2 separate regions of the Homo sapiens genome follow, and region 2 is linked to region 1. Evidence: fine-mapped expression QTL. A gene starts in region 1. The other region holds a variant in brackets. All regions are shown on one strand. Distances are from middle to middle.

Region 1 (8,413 bases):
CTCTTAATTCTGACTGCTACTACAGCATCACCCACAATGTGTTACAGCCATGTATACCAAGTTTATTTCCATATAAACTATGTCTTATCCTTCTGCCAGGCACTTAATAGGTACCAAAGAGATGTCTGTGCATACAAAGAATGAATTAATCTGTAACATTAAAAAAAGAAAGATAACAAGGGGAAGCTACTTCCTAGTCCTCAAACTTCAAAGGAGTGCCATGAAGGGTTCTAGGAAACATTCTACAATCACAAAGATTTACTCTTTTACATGCATATAGTCTGCAACTGTAAAACTGAACATGCCCTCAGGGTCTTCCACTAGACTGTAAATTCCACACGAGGACAGATTTGTACCTGTTTTGTTGTCTGTCTATTCACTCTCTGAGATTCACTGCAAGAGCTCAACAAGTATTTGCTAAATGAATAAAAGAATGTATAAAATGCTAGTGTGAATAGTACTGTTAAATAAATTCAGTTACTGCAGATTAAAAATATCCCAACAAACGCCAGCTCTATCTTCTGGCCAGAGTAGACTTAAAAGAAATTATCCTTTTGCTTCTAAAGCAGGTCTTGCCTCGGGACTGGGCAGTTTATCCGCAGAGCACCAAGGAAGAATGTGTGCCCACTGCCAACTACAAAGAATCATGGATCATAAACCCTCAGAAGTGGAGGTATCACGGAAATGAGCTTAATGTTTTATGCTTTCCTGTCGCCTTAAACTGCCAAGAAGGCTGGTGCACCTCAGAGGAAAGAATACTCACAGGAATTAGTTTCCGGTCCCTGAAACCCAGTCATTTCAACATGACAGCTGTTTGAAATCCCATGTAACCAGAGGGTTTCTGAGACAGGAAGCAACAGTGGCACACCTAGCTGAGCACGGGGGAGAGTAAGAAGCAGAGAGGAAACAAGCTGAATGAGAACATGGCTTGGAGGCAGCAAGGAAAGTATAAAAACAATGAACCAGGCCAGGCGCGGTGGCTCACGCCTGTAATCCCAGCACTGTGGGAGGCCAAGGCAGGCGGATCACTTGAGATCAGAAGTTCTAGACCAGCCTGGCCAACATGGTGAAATCCCATCTCTACTAAAAAACAACACAAAAATTACCCAGGCATGGTGGAACGTGCCTGTAATCCCAGCTACTCGGGAGGCTGAGGCACGAGAATCACTTGAACCTGGGAGGCAGAGGTTGCAGTGAGCCTAGACTGTGCCACTGCATTCCAGACTGGGCGACAGAGTGAGACACCATCTCGAAAAATAAAAATAATAATAAAAACAATGAACCGATGTCTCTGATGCCTACTATAATGTAATTTACCTTTACATCGTAATTATTAAAAAAGAAAGAAATGAAGGGCACAGAAACAAGGAACACCTTCCTTGGTCACCAGCTACTCTCTCTCATCATTCTCTGAATCCTAACTGCTCTTATAGAAAAGAAATTGGCAAGGATGTGAGTGTGCTTAAATGGACAAGCGAGTAGAGCATGAATGACTTGTTCCCTCTATTTTCTACTTTCCTATATTTTCTAATTTTTCTATAGTGAATTCTCCTTATTGTTATGATGGGAAAAATAACCTTTGCTTAAAGAAATTATAGAGCTAAAAAGTACATGTTCTGACAATAAGAAAACTAAGTATACTAAAAAAACCTTTACCCCAAAAAATGAATAACAAAGAATTCGATAATATCAAACCATCCACAGGCGGCTTTTTACTCAACATATTGCCTTAACCCTGGTTCCCTCAACTACCGGTAAATCTAATGATTCACTTATGAAAAATACTCTTCATATTAGTTATGATTTGCATAGCACGTCACAGTTTCCATGCATTATTTACCTGACTTCCCCCCAAAACTCTGCGAGATGACCAGGGAGAATATTTTTATCTCCATTTTGCAAATGAAGAAAAGAGGTGCCCTGAAGTGAAAAAATTTGCCACAAGAGCCCAGATCTTCTTGCTCCTTACTCAGTATTCCAAAGCAGGACTTCTTAACCTGGGCACTACTGAGATGGATAATTCTTTGTTTGGGATGGGGGGCTGTCTTGTGCGTTATAGGATGTTTAGTAGCATCCCTAGCCTCTAACCACTAGATGCCTACCAGTAGCACCGCTCCCTTCCCCCAAGTTGTAACAACCAAAAATGTCTCCAGAAACTGCAAATATCTCATTGGGTGCAAAATCATACCCTTACTAGTCTAAAAAAATCTGAAAGTTCCTTCCAACACTCCTGTTCAATGACAAGGTTCCATATACCACTGAGCCACAATAATCACAGAACATCCAATGTTCCTTCTTCAGCGAGATTCCATTAATAAGCCAATTCCCCATCCACTTAAAATAATGGTTTTAAATGTGAAAATGAACAAGAAAAATTTATTTGTATGAATATTCACATCTCAGACAATAAATCTTCTAACAGCATGCTATTATCTTATCAGGACATAAGGACATACAAAATGGGATGTGTCTTTGAGGGGAAAAAAACACCAGAGGAATCTGAGAATTAGAAAACACAGATCATGGTCTTTGCTATGCAGTTATACCTTAGTGTTCTCTTGTTCTCTCTACACAAATGAGTATCAACCTACACGTTCTCAATGCTTGTTTCAGTCGGAAGTATATGGCTTTAGCCAAGCTCATGTTAAGATCCTAAATTACAACAACTGAAATGTAGTTATATTTTAGGAAATGTTTGAATTATTTTACCTATATCTAATTTATGCATTCTCTACAATCATTTCCCAATGGTAGTAAATAATTAGTATAGTATGAAATGGAGGAAACCATTTAAACTGGCTGTATTCAGTGTGGAGTATCACACTGCAATCCTAGCAGTAAAAAAACATAGTTTTGTATCTATTTGCAGAAACTAAGACTCAGTCAAAGCACTTAGTTAATATGATATACAGAATTAAGAAGAGGTTATGATTATTCCTATTTATAATGTCCAAAGTCATTCCAGTATGATGTCTTCACATCTTTAAATGTGATCTGGATCTATACAGGGGAGACATTTTCTCCACATTACAAAGCATATTGTACCAGAAATGTCTGGAACCCTGGTGGTCTCCATTAATCTTCACCACAAAGTACAAAAGAACACATTGATCCTTCAATGAAAATAATCCCCTGGTCTTGGAAAACATCAGAGTCACCAAAAGCAAAATCAAGAAACAACACATAATGGGGTTTTGGAAAGGGAAGAACAAAGATTCAATCAATACGAATTGCTCATCTTAAACAAAATCTACTGTGCCTATACCCATATTTAACTCAAATCTTTTCTTCAAAAAATAAAAAAATAGCCAAAACCAAACACGCCCTGATTTACATCTCTCTCTGCATTATTCTCATCACTTAACTACCCATGTTTTACTCCCTGAAAGAAGTAATGACAATTTTATACCACTGTAAATTCCTGCCAGTGAGAGAAAAACCCTATGACTTGGGGGGAAAAGTGTCAATGACATGTATAGCGATGTACTCAACCAGGGGCAGAAGGCAGCTCACAGCCACGTAGTAAGAAGAGTGGCAGGAAGGACGGGGTCCCCTTCCCCAGGAACACACAGGAAATCATGGAGTGCAAACCCTCCAAAAAACGTGTGCACAAACACCTGGCAAACATCGCATCTTTTATCTAGAAGTTCCGTGGTAAACACACATCCAAGGAGCCCACATCCCAGGGACCCTGGGGAGTGACTTTGGAGGAGTGTCTATTAGTCCTCCGATGCTCCCGGTCGCCGACGATGCGCGGATGGAGTTGGAGTGAGGGAGCCAGAGACCAGCCCCAGTTTCGGTTAATCAGTCCCTTTCCAGTGGGATTCGCAATTCCCCGGGTAGTTCTCTCCCACTGTTCCCCTTCCCTGGTCCTCTCGCCCAGGGTCTCCTTTCCCACTTCTCGCTGGCTACCTGAGGCCTGGTTCCTAACAGAACCTAAGAGGGGAGGGGGCGTTTCCCGAGTTCGCGGACGCCCAACACCCAGCTCCAAATCCCAGAAACTTTCCCTCGCTGAGACCGCAAGGAAGGAAAAAAGCTAAGACCCTCAGCCTCCTTCCTGGGGCCGAAGAAGAAAACCTTTCTGCGCTGCCACCCCGGCCGGGAGCTGGCGGTCAAGTTCGCGGTACAAGGAGCTAGGGACGTCAGCCCTCCAGCCCGCGCCTGTATCTCGGGGTGGTATAAACAGGATGTCAGACAGCGCGCTCCGGGCTTGTTTATGAAAACTTGCCGTGCGCGCTGGGGGAGGGGGCGGCCTGGCTTAACCGCTCTTCTCCCGGCCGGGGGCCCCCGCCCGGCGACCTCCTCGCCGCCCGCCGGCTCCGCGGGGCTGGAAATCCCCGCCTTCCCCGCCCGAGCCGCGGGGTCCTGAGCTGCGCTCAGGAGCAGCCCGGGCCGCGCAGCCTAAGGACCGACCAAGAGCGGTGGCCGCGCCTCCGGCCAGTCCGGGCTGCGCGCCCCTCGCCTGCCGACCGCGGCCGCCCCGGCTCCTCCACCTCCCCCGGTGACACTCACCACTTCCGTGTGCGCCTGGGCCAGGCAGCGCCCCGTCGCTGCGCTGGCTGGGGTCGACCGGCAGGCTCGCTAGGCGGCCAGCCCCGCGGGGCCCCAGCGTGCGCGCGCCCAGGGCTGAGGAGGGGTCGCGGCGAGGACAGCCGGGACTGGGCGCAGGCCCGCACTGTCTGCAGCTCCAGGATACTCCGCGGCCGCCGCGGCCTGCGCTCAGCGACGCACCGCCTCCCGTCCCGCCCCGCCCCGCCCCGCGGCCGGCCCCACCCCCGTGGCCGCCGGGCCCACCCCCTCGCGACGTCACCAGCGGCAGCCCCGGAAAGCGGGGCGGGGTCGCGGTCCCGGCGGAGACTCTGCGCCTCCGGCCTACCCGCCCCGCCCCCATCCGGCTTCGCTCGCGAAGCTGCCCCCACTCGTCTCTGTTCACCGCGTCCTCTAGATTCTAGAATCTAGAAACTCATCTAGGACGCGAGGTCATCTATCGCGGGGAGTAAAATTGCCAGGATTCGCCCGTAGATTGACCCCTCCCAGCTCTGGAGCCCCCTCCGCCACACCTTTGTGCGCTCGATGCAGAAATGCATCCCGCCTCCTCCGTATACGCTCCGCTTCTTACCCCAGCTCAGTAGGAGAGGAGCTAGTGGAGCACTAGACTAAAAAGAATTTAACAATACAGCCCCCAGCTTGGACAAGCTACTGCAGATCCAACCCATTCCGTATTTTAAAAGCTCTTTACGAAAAAAAAAAAAGCATATGCATAATAGGAATTAGAACTACATTCACTGATACCTAATGCATGTACAGCGCTTTTCATTTTTTACTAATAACCTCTCAAAGTAGTAGCATCATCTTATCCATGAGGAACAAATTAAGTCTTTAGTGTCTTAATCAAGGTCACACTGTAGCCAAGATTCATACTTCGTAGGCAGTCCACGGACAAATCCTAACAATTTTATTTCCTTAGGTATCTCTCCAATCAGTTCACTTGTCTATGTTCCGGCAACACGGTCCGAGCTGCCACCATCTCTCACCTGAAGGGACCACGAACATCTCTTAAATCGTCACTCCATTCACTCCAGCCCCCAATTAATTCTCTACAATGAACTTTTAAAAATTCAAATCTGTTCCACACACTCCCATGCTTAAAACACTCCAGCGACTTCCCCCTGACAATCCCTGGATGAAAATCCTCCGAGGCCGTGCACGGTCAGAATTCTGCAGCTTCAGGGCTGTGGACAGAGGCTGCCCCACCTGTGCTGACTTCACTAACCCTGCTGGACAGTTCCTGATCACTTGAGTTACTGCAACTGAAACTGAGCAAGATATTCTGGGTGTGGAATAAAGTCAAGCATCCGAATTAGACTACTGAATTTGAGGTTTGGCCTCCACCAGTAACCACCTGTGTTGCCCTAAACAATTCTTAGTTGACTCAATTCTCAGTGGAGCAGCAGACAAAAGGATCTCCAAAGTGCCTTCCAGAAGTACAGAAAAGAGGACCAAAGAAGACCGGAGATCAGAGCAGACAGGGAGGCAACCCGGGTTGCCTGCATTGTGGGTGTTTGTGTGCAAGTCTTGTCTCATCTGCCACACTCTGAACAACACCTCAGGGCTGTTTGCATCATTTTCTTCACCTGTTAAATAGGGATAATGCCTTCCTTAAAGGGGTTTTGCTGAAGGTGAACTATGATAATATAGCCCACATGGCATGGGCTCAGGAAGTGGTAGGGGTTTTTATTGAGCTGGACCATAAAGAACAGGTGAGACTGACATGAAGGGAGACAGAGACGTGAAAGAACAGCATTTCAGGTGAGGATGTAAAGAAAAAGGAAAGTCAGGAAGGCAGCAGTGAACCCATTGTGCCCACGAACGAATCTGGCTGTTCACAGGGTGGAATCAGGGGGAGAGGGCCTGGATTCAGTTTAGATCTGTTCGTCTATAACAGACATTGTGCTAGGTGATGAAGATTCAGAGAAAAAAAAAATAGACTAGGTTCCTGACCTCTGAATGCTCAATGCAGTCAGAGAGACAGGCAAGTAACAATTCAGTGATTCCCGGTCCTGTAATGGTGATCACAGAAGACAGTCACCCAGCCGAGTCTGAGGAAGTCAGAATAAGCTTCAAGTAGCCGACAGGAGGCAGGAGTCAGGAGGTAGCGGCATATTCAGGCAGTAATAGTATATGCTGGCTGGGTGTGGCGGCTCATGCCTGTAATCTCAGCACTTTGGGAGGCTGAGGCAGGAGGACTGCTTGAGGCCAGGAGTTTGACACCAACTTGGGCAACACAGCAAGACCCTGTCTCTAAAATAAAAACAAACAAACAAACAAAGGCCAGGTGCAGTGGCTCACGCCTGTAATCCCAGCACTTTGGGAGGCCGAGGTGGGCCAATCACTTGAGGTCAGGAGTTTGAGACCAGCCTGGCCAACATGGCGAAACCCCATCTCTACTAAAAATACAAAAATTAGCTGGACGTGGTGGCGGGAACCTGTAATCTCAGCTACTTGGGAGACTGAGGCACAAGAATCGCTTGAAGCCGGGAGGCAGAGTTTGCAGTGAGCTGAGATTGTGCCACTGCACTCCAGCCTGGGCGACAGAGCGAGACTCCCTCTCAAAAAAAAAAAAAAAAAAAAAAAGGTAAACTAGCTGGGCATGGTGGCACATGCCTGTATTTCCGACTACTTGGGAGGCTGATGCTGGAGGATCACTTGAGCCCAGGAGTTTGAGGCTGCAGTGAGCTAGGATCACACCACTGCACTTTAGCCTGGGCAACAGAGTGAGACCCCTTCTCTTAAAAAAAAAAAATAAGTATATGCTGTGTGACTGGGGAATGAGAAAAGTTGAATCCCATGCAAAAACTTTTGCCTAAAATAAAATAGTGGGTTTTTTTTTTTGAGAGATTTAAGGTTTTTGTTTTAGAAGAATCACCCTAGGGCAAGGGCTCTCAACCTCAGCACTATTGACATTGTGGGCTGGAAAATTCTTGTTGTAGTGGGGGTGTCCTGTGCATTGTAGGATGTTTAGCAGCATCTCTGACCTCTGACTACTAGGTGCTAGTAGCAAGTCCTCTTGTTCCCCCATCACACCCCCCCGCAACTCCCCACCCTCCTCCTTTCCCAGCTGTGACTTCCAAAAATGTCTTCAGACGTTGCCAAATGTCCCCTGGGGTGCAAAATCACACCCCACTGAGAACCACTAGTCTAGGGATAATGTGGAAGATGAATTGGAGGGCAAGGAGATTAATTACATGTCATTGTAAAACTGCAAGCTGCGAGAGATGACAGCCTATCTAAGGCAGTGGACTGGGGAAGGATACTGAGGAAGATGCAAAAGGCCTGAGGAGATAGAATGGACAGTGCTTGGTGACTGATTAGATGTGGCTACTGAGGCAGAGAGAGGAATCTCGCATGACTCCCAAATTTTCTGAATTGGTTAATAAGCTGACCAAGGATGCCACCGACTGGATGCCACCGACTAAACAGGATAAGAAATTCAGTTTTATGTTTGAGAAGAGGAAAGTTTTAAACAGTCACTGAGCCAGGCGTGGTGGCTTAGACCTGTAATCCCAGCATTTTGGGAGTTCAGGAGTTCAAAATGGGTTCAGGAGTTCAAAATGAGACCAGCTTGCGCAACATGGCAAAACCCTGTATCTACAAAAAATACAAAAAATAACTGAGTGTGGTGGCACATGCCTGTGGTCCCAGCTACTCAGGAGTCGAGGTGGAAGGATCACTTGAGCCCAGGAGATCAAGGCTGCAGTGAGCTAGTATGGTGCCACTGCACTGAAGCCTGGGAAACAGAGTGAGACCCTGTCTCAAAAAAAAAAAAAAAAAAAAACGGCCGGGCACAGTGGCTCACACCTGTAATCCTAGCACTTTGGGAGGCCAAGACGGGGTGGATTGCTTGAGGCCAGGA
Region 2 (8,413 bases), 130 kb before region 1:
ATAAAAGCTTGCTGCACTTATTTTTGTAAAAGCTGAAACTAAGAGGCATTAAGCTGAGCAGTGCTACACCATCTGATTTACTGTGCTGATCACTGTGACCACTTGTGAGGACATGTGGCCCACTTTCAGGTCAGAATCTCTGGGATGGTGCCTGAAAACCTGCATTTTAATATGCTCGCCAGGCGATTATTGTGGAGACCAAAGCTCTGAGTTTCCCATTGCTCTCTAGAATGTTTCATGTTGTTTTCTTTGATGTCATTTGTCAGTTTCTACACCTATTGATTTATTCTCTCACCACTCCTCTTGTCACCAGGCACACTTAACATCTAATTCAATATGCAGCTTGATGTCTTAGCCACTCCTCCTTCAGAGGAATACTGACATTCGGTGTTGATATTCTGAGTCCGTGGGTTTAACTAGCTGTGATCAGCAGAAGCAGCTGCATGCAGTGCTCTAATTTTTTCTTTTCCCAAAAAGTTGGGGTTGGGAGTGAAGGTGCTGAGACTGGTTTGTGTCTTGCAGAAATTCCAAAGGCGATGTTGATACAGAAATTTAAAAGTCTTATTTAACAAAGGGGTTTGTGTATTTTTTGATAGTTTGGGTATTTATCCTGTTATTCTATATTCACCAAGTCAAAGTGGAATGCTTTTCTTATAAATATCTTTAATGAATAAGCCAACTTTAGATTTTAAAACTAGCTGCAATTTTATTTTCTCATAGGTGTCATCTTTAAGAAATGAAAAGCGAGGCTCATCATATCTCATCTCTGCCCCAGAAGGTGGTTCAGTGGAATGTGTTGACCAGCATTCTCAGGGCACAGGAGCATATTACATGGAAACTTACTTAAAAAAGAAGCGAGTATACTGAGTTAAGCTCTCTCCTAATAACCCCCTAAGGTTCTCTGCAGTATCTCTGCTGTTCATCGCTGCCTTAACTTCATTCAAACTAGCCATATCCTTTAAATACGGGTTTATAGTTTCCCAGAAGGAACTGTGTTGTGCAGCAGGCAGAAATGCCAAATAAAAAATAGCAATAAGAAGAGACATCAATTGAGGACATTTTCCACTAGAGTCAGATGCATCTTAATCAGTGTGCTAACTTACAATCCATTGGAGAAACTAACAATGTTCCAATATTCCTTGATTTAGGACTGGGAATAATTCTGACACCATATATAAAAGAAGTTTGAAGCAATAAATGGGAAACAGTGTTGTTTCCTGAGCCTTAGAAGAATGAGTTTCTTATAAGCCAATGTGCATTTCAATTTACTTTCCCTAGAAGTAATTGCATTTATAGATTTTTAGGACTTTTCCTAGAACTACAAGGGTGCAAGTACCAAATGTGCTGATGGTAATATTATAAAGATGCTCTACATGCACACTCAATTACGCCCACACCAGCCATGCAAAATTAAACCCGGTAAGAGAGTGACAGTGATATCCAAGGTATCCACTACTACCGATGCTTTAAGATGTTGTTTACCATTTATACCTTCTGTGAAAAATAGAAGGTATTTTAAGAAAAGTAACTTTGGTGATCTAATAAAAGGGTTTGGCAAACTACACCCTGGGTCCACATTTGGTCTACCACCCGCTTTTGTGCTGCCTGCAAGCTAAGACTAATGTTTACATTTTTAAATGGTTGGAGGAAAAAAGAAAACTTATGACATGAAATTTATATGAAATTCAGATTTCAGTGTCCATAAATAAACTTTTATTGGGACGTTGCCATGCTCATTCATTTACGTGTTGTCTGTGGCACTCTTACGCTACAAGGGCAGAACTGATTAGCTTCAACAGAGACTGTATGGCCTACAAAGACCATATGGCCTAAAATTTCAAGTATCTGGCCATTTATATATAGTTTGCTGATCCCTGATCTAATAGCACTAATTCTAATAGCAACTATTCCTTTCAATTCACCTAAAGACAGACCTTTAGCCTTTAGACAGACTTGTAAGTGGAAAGGAACATGGGTTTCTGTGCTCATTTCATAGCGTAGACTAGTAATGATCTAATGACTAGAATGGGGCCTATTTTGATCACTAAATGCCCTATTATTTCCACAATATAGTATAGTAAAGCAGTCAATACTGCACTTTCTGATGGAGTCTTAAGGAGTCACAGTATTTATAACCATTTTGAGCTAATAAGCTATACCTCACTCTCTGCTTTCTCTCTCACTCTTTTTGATAGTGTGTTAGGGTGAAAAATCAGTTATTTAACCCAATTTACTTGTGAAAGAAGTTTTATCTTTATGGACTATGATGACTTTTGACATCACCATTTCTTGAAGACCTTGGTATTAAATGCATGAGAAACCTTTTGCCATCTAGAAATTTCTAAGTTTGTTTATGTTATAAGACTGTAATTAATTGATAGGGAATTTGGGATCTCAATCCGGGGCTTTTTGAAATCAGATCATTAAATATCTCGTCACTTTGGGGACTTGTTATTTTTAACTATGATGTGGATATCCTGTTTTAATTATGAAGTCTAGAATTGGTACATATGTTGTATGCTTTGTAAAGAATTTCACTTGGTCTAATTTATTGCATATACTAGCTTCTGTTGGAAAATGACTGACAGCTAGAAAGTTTAAGGTAATTTCTAAGTATACTACCTATAAGTAACTGATAAGAATTAGGCATCATTCAGTGATATAGCAGATGACTAATGGGTTTTTCAGGCCCTGCACTTCTCTTTCCCATTTTCCTGTTGCATTCAGCCTCTTCAATGCTTAGTCACACCTCCACTATAGTACAAACAAACAAACAAACAGAAGAAAGGAAAGATGGTGAATTTTGCAACAGAGCTGCAAAAAGTCAGTCAGTCAAAGCAGGAAGAGGTTGAAGGAACTAAAACAAACAAACAAAGGTGTCTGGACTACAGCACAGTGGACATGCCATCCATACTGGCCTGTGCCCCGTTATCAATCACTGGGCACAACAGTGAAGAAGTGCAAATCAAGTGGTGTTTGTTTGTTTGTTAGTAGTAAGGACCGTAACCCACCCCTTCCTCCCCCCAAAACTATACTGTTATTTTTCTATGTAAGCAAATTGTTTGAAATGCTTTGAAAATGAAATCTTAATATTAAAAGGCATATGCATGTAAAGTCTTTAGTATATTTATTTGTATAAAGAGTAAACAAAGTGCATATAGAGTGGCCACAGGTTTGACACAGAGACCTTGGTGATGTAGGCTATGAACAAATTTAAATGGCAACTTCATTGCTGCCACTGAACCAATCCTGAATTTGGGCTCAACAGGTGAAAAGTAACAATATCAAACGAATACTAAACAGCATAACAAAAAGATTTTCAGACTCTTGGTCATAAAGACCGTAATCGTTCACATTGAATCAATGACTAAACATTTTTGATTACCCAGCTACCTCCAAGCAAACTGAAAACTGTCTAGTGGATCCTGAAGTCCATAGTGCCTCTAGCCGGGTCTTTCAAGTGTTGCACCACAGGGTGATGATTGATGGTAAAAACAGGGATCAACCCTTGTAGATCGGTGGTAAGTATGGAAACCCTCTAAGAACAGTGCAGCGTATGTGGTATTCAGACTGGTTGCATACAGCATTCAAAACCAGTGCTGGAATAGCTTGCCCCAAAGTGGTAGAGTTATAAAAGGATATACATTGACGTTTCTTAAAAGCATGTGTAATAGCATCCAGGTTCTGGGAATGAGTTCTGATTAAAGGTATACTGCTTAGGAAAGCACTGGCACAGGCTTAGTTCTTGA[G/GAATT]AATTAACATGCAGCAAATTATCTATTCCACAGCTATCCCCCCATGTAGAACCAGCTTTCTCAAAAATGGGTGCTAGTGATCACCCAAAGGAACAGGAGCTAAGCCACTGGAGAAACAAAGTTTAAGTCCTACTGGTGAGAGAATACAGTCATTTTTGTACAGAAACAATATATACTACCTGGTATCTAATATTTTAAGAATGCATGGTCTAGTACTGTATAGATACTGAAATTTGAGGGCTAAGTCCATCAATCTTTCTTTATCTATGATTAATGTGCCAGCAAAACATTTCAGATCAGCTGGCAGCAGGGAAAAGCAATCATCTTCAGATATTATTTTGGTCAACTCCTCGTTTTCAAAAATCCCCTTTTGGTAATGCAGTTGTGATGGTGAACTAGCCAGATGAAATGGTGGTATATTCTTTCCACAAGGAGGAGTGCTTAAGTGCTTTCAAATATTTTGGTTGTCATTATGTGTCACTAAGTTACTGGTACCAAATTTAAAGAGGAAGTCCTTACACATATTAAGCACTACAGTGTGCCTTATACATGTATATGTACTGAAGTATGAGTTCAGTGACTTTTTGGACAGAACACAAACTTCTTTCATTAGAAATTTTTAAAAAATGACTTGGGCATTTGTTGCAGGAGAAGGACTTGATAATCTGTGGAATTTAAATGTTATTCATGCTTCTTATTTTAAAAGTGCTTCAAATCCTTCAATAAGGTTCTGAAAGCTTGTCCGATTGGATGGTTGGAATTCCCAGCATTTCCTCATAAGTTGATAAACCTGTAAAAAGAAAGAAGTAACAACAGTAAAAATGTTAGATCTGGGAACTTTAAAAAATAACAGAAATATCAAGAGTAAGAAAATAATTTTGGAAATGCAATGACTTTTCCTTAAAGACTAGAAAAACAAGAGTATTTGAATAGTTTAAAACACAGAAAATGGGATACAACTCTAGTTCATAAATAATATTTTAACATTTGAGAAGCTCAAGGGTTGACTGGCTGCAATAAAATCCAGGTCATTCCTGTAAACCAGTTAGAGGGTGAAGCAGAATCTCAGTTCAGACTTGAACTTTCCAGACTGGCTGCCTCACTCTCTGACTCATACTGTTCAGTGTGTCTTACACAGTCTCAAGAGTTTAGTATTAAAGGCTCAATTCACTTAGAAAACTGAATTATAAATGCTAATAAGTGGGATAAACTTACACACAAAAAATGCAATTATATGTATTTGTCACACTAAGGCTACACCAAAACCTGTCCCTCTGGGGCAAGCAAGTGGATAAAGAGGGGCTGGCTTTTGGAGGGAATCCTTGCTCTGAACCTAACTGGTGGCTATCATCTAGCCCCAAAGGCGATTTCTCAGTTATCTTATGTGAAATTCAGCTTCAGAAAACTATTTTACAAGGACTTCACTGCATCATTTCCTCGCTCTCCCCTCTACCCATTGCTGGACAACTCAAGCTGCGAAAACATAATAGAAATGGAGTGTTATTACTGTGACGTGGCCCATAGATACCTCATCTGGACAGTTAGGTGGGCACGGCAGGCGTTTTCCTTCTTTTAACGTATTCACAAGTCTTGTGACTGTCATCTGGCCATGGGTTGGGCCTATCATTTTCAGGAACAACTATATAAAATAAAATCAAACAAAACGTTTAACTTTGCAAGTATTTACATAAATGCCAAACAGATTAAGGTGAAATTTCTACAATCAACTGGAAATTTAAGTAGCAATAAAAAGGCTTTTCTCCTTAGTAACTTTAAATAAAAATCCAAAATCCTTATTAGCTTTCAATGATCTGTCTCTAACCAGTGTCTTAGACTCTACCAACCACTCCTTGTGCTTGTGCTGGTCAAGGAGTCTGTTCCCAAGAAAATGATCTGATTTAGGAATGAAGGAGGCACAGACAAGGCTGGTCCCTACCCAGTGCTACCCCACTTAACTTGCTCATTTTCCCATAAAACTGCCCTTCATCTCTACACAGATAAGATCCTTGAGAGTCAAGGTCATCCTATAGAACTCCGGGCTCGTTGTGAAAGCAAGACTTTAGAGATTCACAAATAACTGTCAAGTAGCAAACCAAGTTAATGGGAAAGTGACATTTTCCATTATAATACATTCATTGGATTCCATTTAAAAACAAAAGTTAACCAAGCAGAGGGATGGACACATTTTAAATGGGTACTGGATTCAAATGAAGAGAAAAGTAGGACTTACAGCCATGGGACTAGAATCTGAATCACAGTAAGTCAGCAGCTCATGCAGAGTGACTCCAAAAGACCAGACGTCAGAGGCAATATAAAATTTAGATTGCATTAAACATTCTGGAGCATACCTTGAAAGGAAGCAGAACACAAAACTTCATTTCCTGGGAGGCACACTCCATCCGACATTACAGGATAACTGAAAAATCACCTCTTCGGTTTTTCTTATAATTTAATACAGCATCTGACTGTGTATTATATATTTTACACATACCATGTATACGCTGCTATGGTGCACATCTGACCTATAGTACGGTATCCTTTACAGGCTCTCGGTAGCACGTATCTGCCCTAAAATAACACGCCAAGTCTGTGCTCTTCATTTCACTGAGAACATGCTCTCAGGGTATGGGAGGAGGTGGCCGTGTAATGATGAGCCCCAGGTCTGATTTGCCTGCAGGCTCTAAATGAGACAGCAGTGGCCTCACTGCACAATGTGGCATCGCTGTCCAATCCTCTTCCAGCATTGCCTACTTTGCTGAATGACACCCACTTGCCCAAGCCAAAAATGAAGGCATTCCACCGCACCCAATCTCCTTATATACTCCTTGAACCTACTCACTTCTCTCAAACCCTACTGTCACTCTCCCAGTCCCTGTCCTAATTCATGCTGTCACTAGCTCTGGCCTGAGCTGTTGAAGCAGCCAAATCAGACTCCCTGGCTCCAGACTCCCTGGCTCCAGACTCCCTGGCTCCAATCTTGTTCCCTTCATTCAGTGGTGGTCTTTTTAAAACAAAGTCTCCCTCCTTAAACTCTCCAGCAGCATCCCATTGTTCTTGAGATGAAGTCCCAGCTCCATGACTCAAGCTTCCTCCTGCAAACCTCCTATTCCATGATCTGACCTCACTGAGGTTCAGTTCCTGGGAAATCGACTGCTCTTGTCTCATTCTTCCTAGTCACGCATGCTGTCTAGCAACCGTCTGTCTAAACCCGCATGAATCTTTCAGGTTTCTTCTGAATACTCACGACTTCCAGAAAACCAAGCCCGAACCCTTCTGTATGTTTCCTGCTCCATGCCGTTGGCTGCCTAGCCTGTTAAACTCTAAACTCGGCCTACTTGTTCACCATATCTCCAGTACTGGCACAAAGCAGGACCTTGATGCATTTTCTTAAATGAATGAATGAGTAAGTTTAGGCTCCATAAGTGGGAGAGGTCTATGTTTGTGTCCATGTAGGATGCACCTAGGGGAGTGCTGATTGGTTATGTCGTTATGTGGTTACGTGGCAGGGTGCGGTAGAGATGTAAGCAGCCTCTCCCCTGGACAGTGTTCCCGGCTGAGACATGGTTGTAGCCAGTGTGTGGCCTTCTAACCTGGGAACCTCTGGTGATTCATGAGACAGCCAGGTCTCCCGTAGGTTTTGCTCTGCTCTGTCCAGGAGTTCCCTGAATCTGCAATGCCCACTCTGTCCTACAGCCTCCCTCTGCAGGAATGTGTTTAAGAAAGGAACTAGATTCTCTCCACCTGCTCACAGTTTTAAGAACTGCATCAGATGAATGCCCTCTCCTGGAAAGCTAGGAATGTTGAGCTGGTGGTTAGATTTCTTTCATTCCTTGGAAGACGGTGTCATATGAAGCTCAGTCATTTATATAGGCTGCTTTCAATGAAACAGGCTGAAAGGTGTGTTTCTTGAAGATAAATATCAATCAATTCCAAATGTTCTAAACCTTCTCTAACCTTGAGTCAGGCCAGAGGAATGAGACACATTAATATAGCCAGAAAGGGCCTATTAAAACAGTGTAAACTCTATGAAGCATTGATAAAACCTAGTGGTTTGATTCAGTTACCAAAACACAGGGCTGTCCCGGTCATCCTTGACGGTGTAATACTCCTTATCGGTTTCAATTGCTTTGGTTAAACCGAAGTCTCCAATTTTCACTTGGTGTTCACTCTCAACAAGGACATTTCTTGCTGCCAAGTCCCGGTGAACGTATTGCCGAGAACCCAAATAGTCCATCCCCTGAGAGAGAGAAGTAAAAGTCAAGCACATTGCTAAAGTCACTTTAGATTGTATTATCTATCACTTCATCAGAAAAAATAGAAATGTCATTTCATTCACATATCACTGACAATTTTTTTGGTTCTGACTTTTATGCAAGAATATTAAGAACAAACTGATTCAAATAAATACACATTAAAATAACCATATTTAAATCCGTTTACTTTCTTAGTAGAAGCTAACTTTTCATCTAAATAATGCAGAGAAAAACAAACAGTATAATTATCATAAACTTACCCACTTAGAGTCAAATTACAAACCAATTACCCAGGACAGAGTGCCTGATGTCTTAATCTGTAACATGATGTCTTTATTTTTTACCTTACAAATCTGAACGGCATATTTTAGCTGCTGTTTGAGGTTTATTTTGTTCTTATTCTTTGGAAGA

What was found. PIP is the estimated chance that this variant, and not a neighbour inherited with it, causes the effect.
Region 2: its variant is fine-mapped to the expression of JAK1 in transverse colon (GTEx, PIP above 0.99). The same link has a PIP of 0.9 or more in subcutaneous fat and whole blood.

Annotation. Positions count from the first base shown.
Region 1 is chr1:64,961,821-64,970,233 of GRCh38, forward strand. It overlaps JAK1 (Janus kinase 1), which reads right to left and starts at 4,729. Exons shown (of 25, transcript NM_002227.4): 1 at 4,513-4,729. RefSeq lists an enhancer at 628-727 and a silencer at 4,074-4,953.
Region 2 is chr1:64,830,119-64,838,531 of GRCh38, forward strand. RAVER2 (ribonucleoprotein, PTB binding 2) reads left to right here. Exons shown (of 12, transcript NM_001366165.2): 12 at 721-3,114. The coding sequence ends at 867. It overlaps JAK1 (Janus kinase 1), which reads right to left. Exons shown (of 25, transcript NM_002227.4): 21 at 8,347-8,413; 22 at 7,814-7,986; 23 at 5,980-6,097; 24 at 5,278-5,388; 25 at 3,111-4,539. The coding sequence ends at 4,444. Among named protein-coding and RNA genes, the nearest start is that of RAVER2, 89 kb to the left of the region's middle. The variant G/GAATT (reference allele first, on the strand shown) is at 3,750.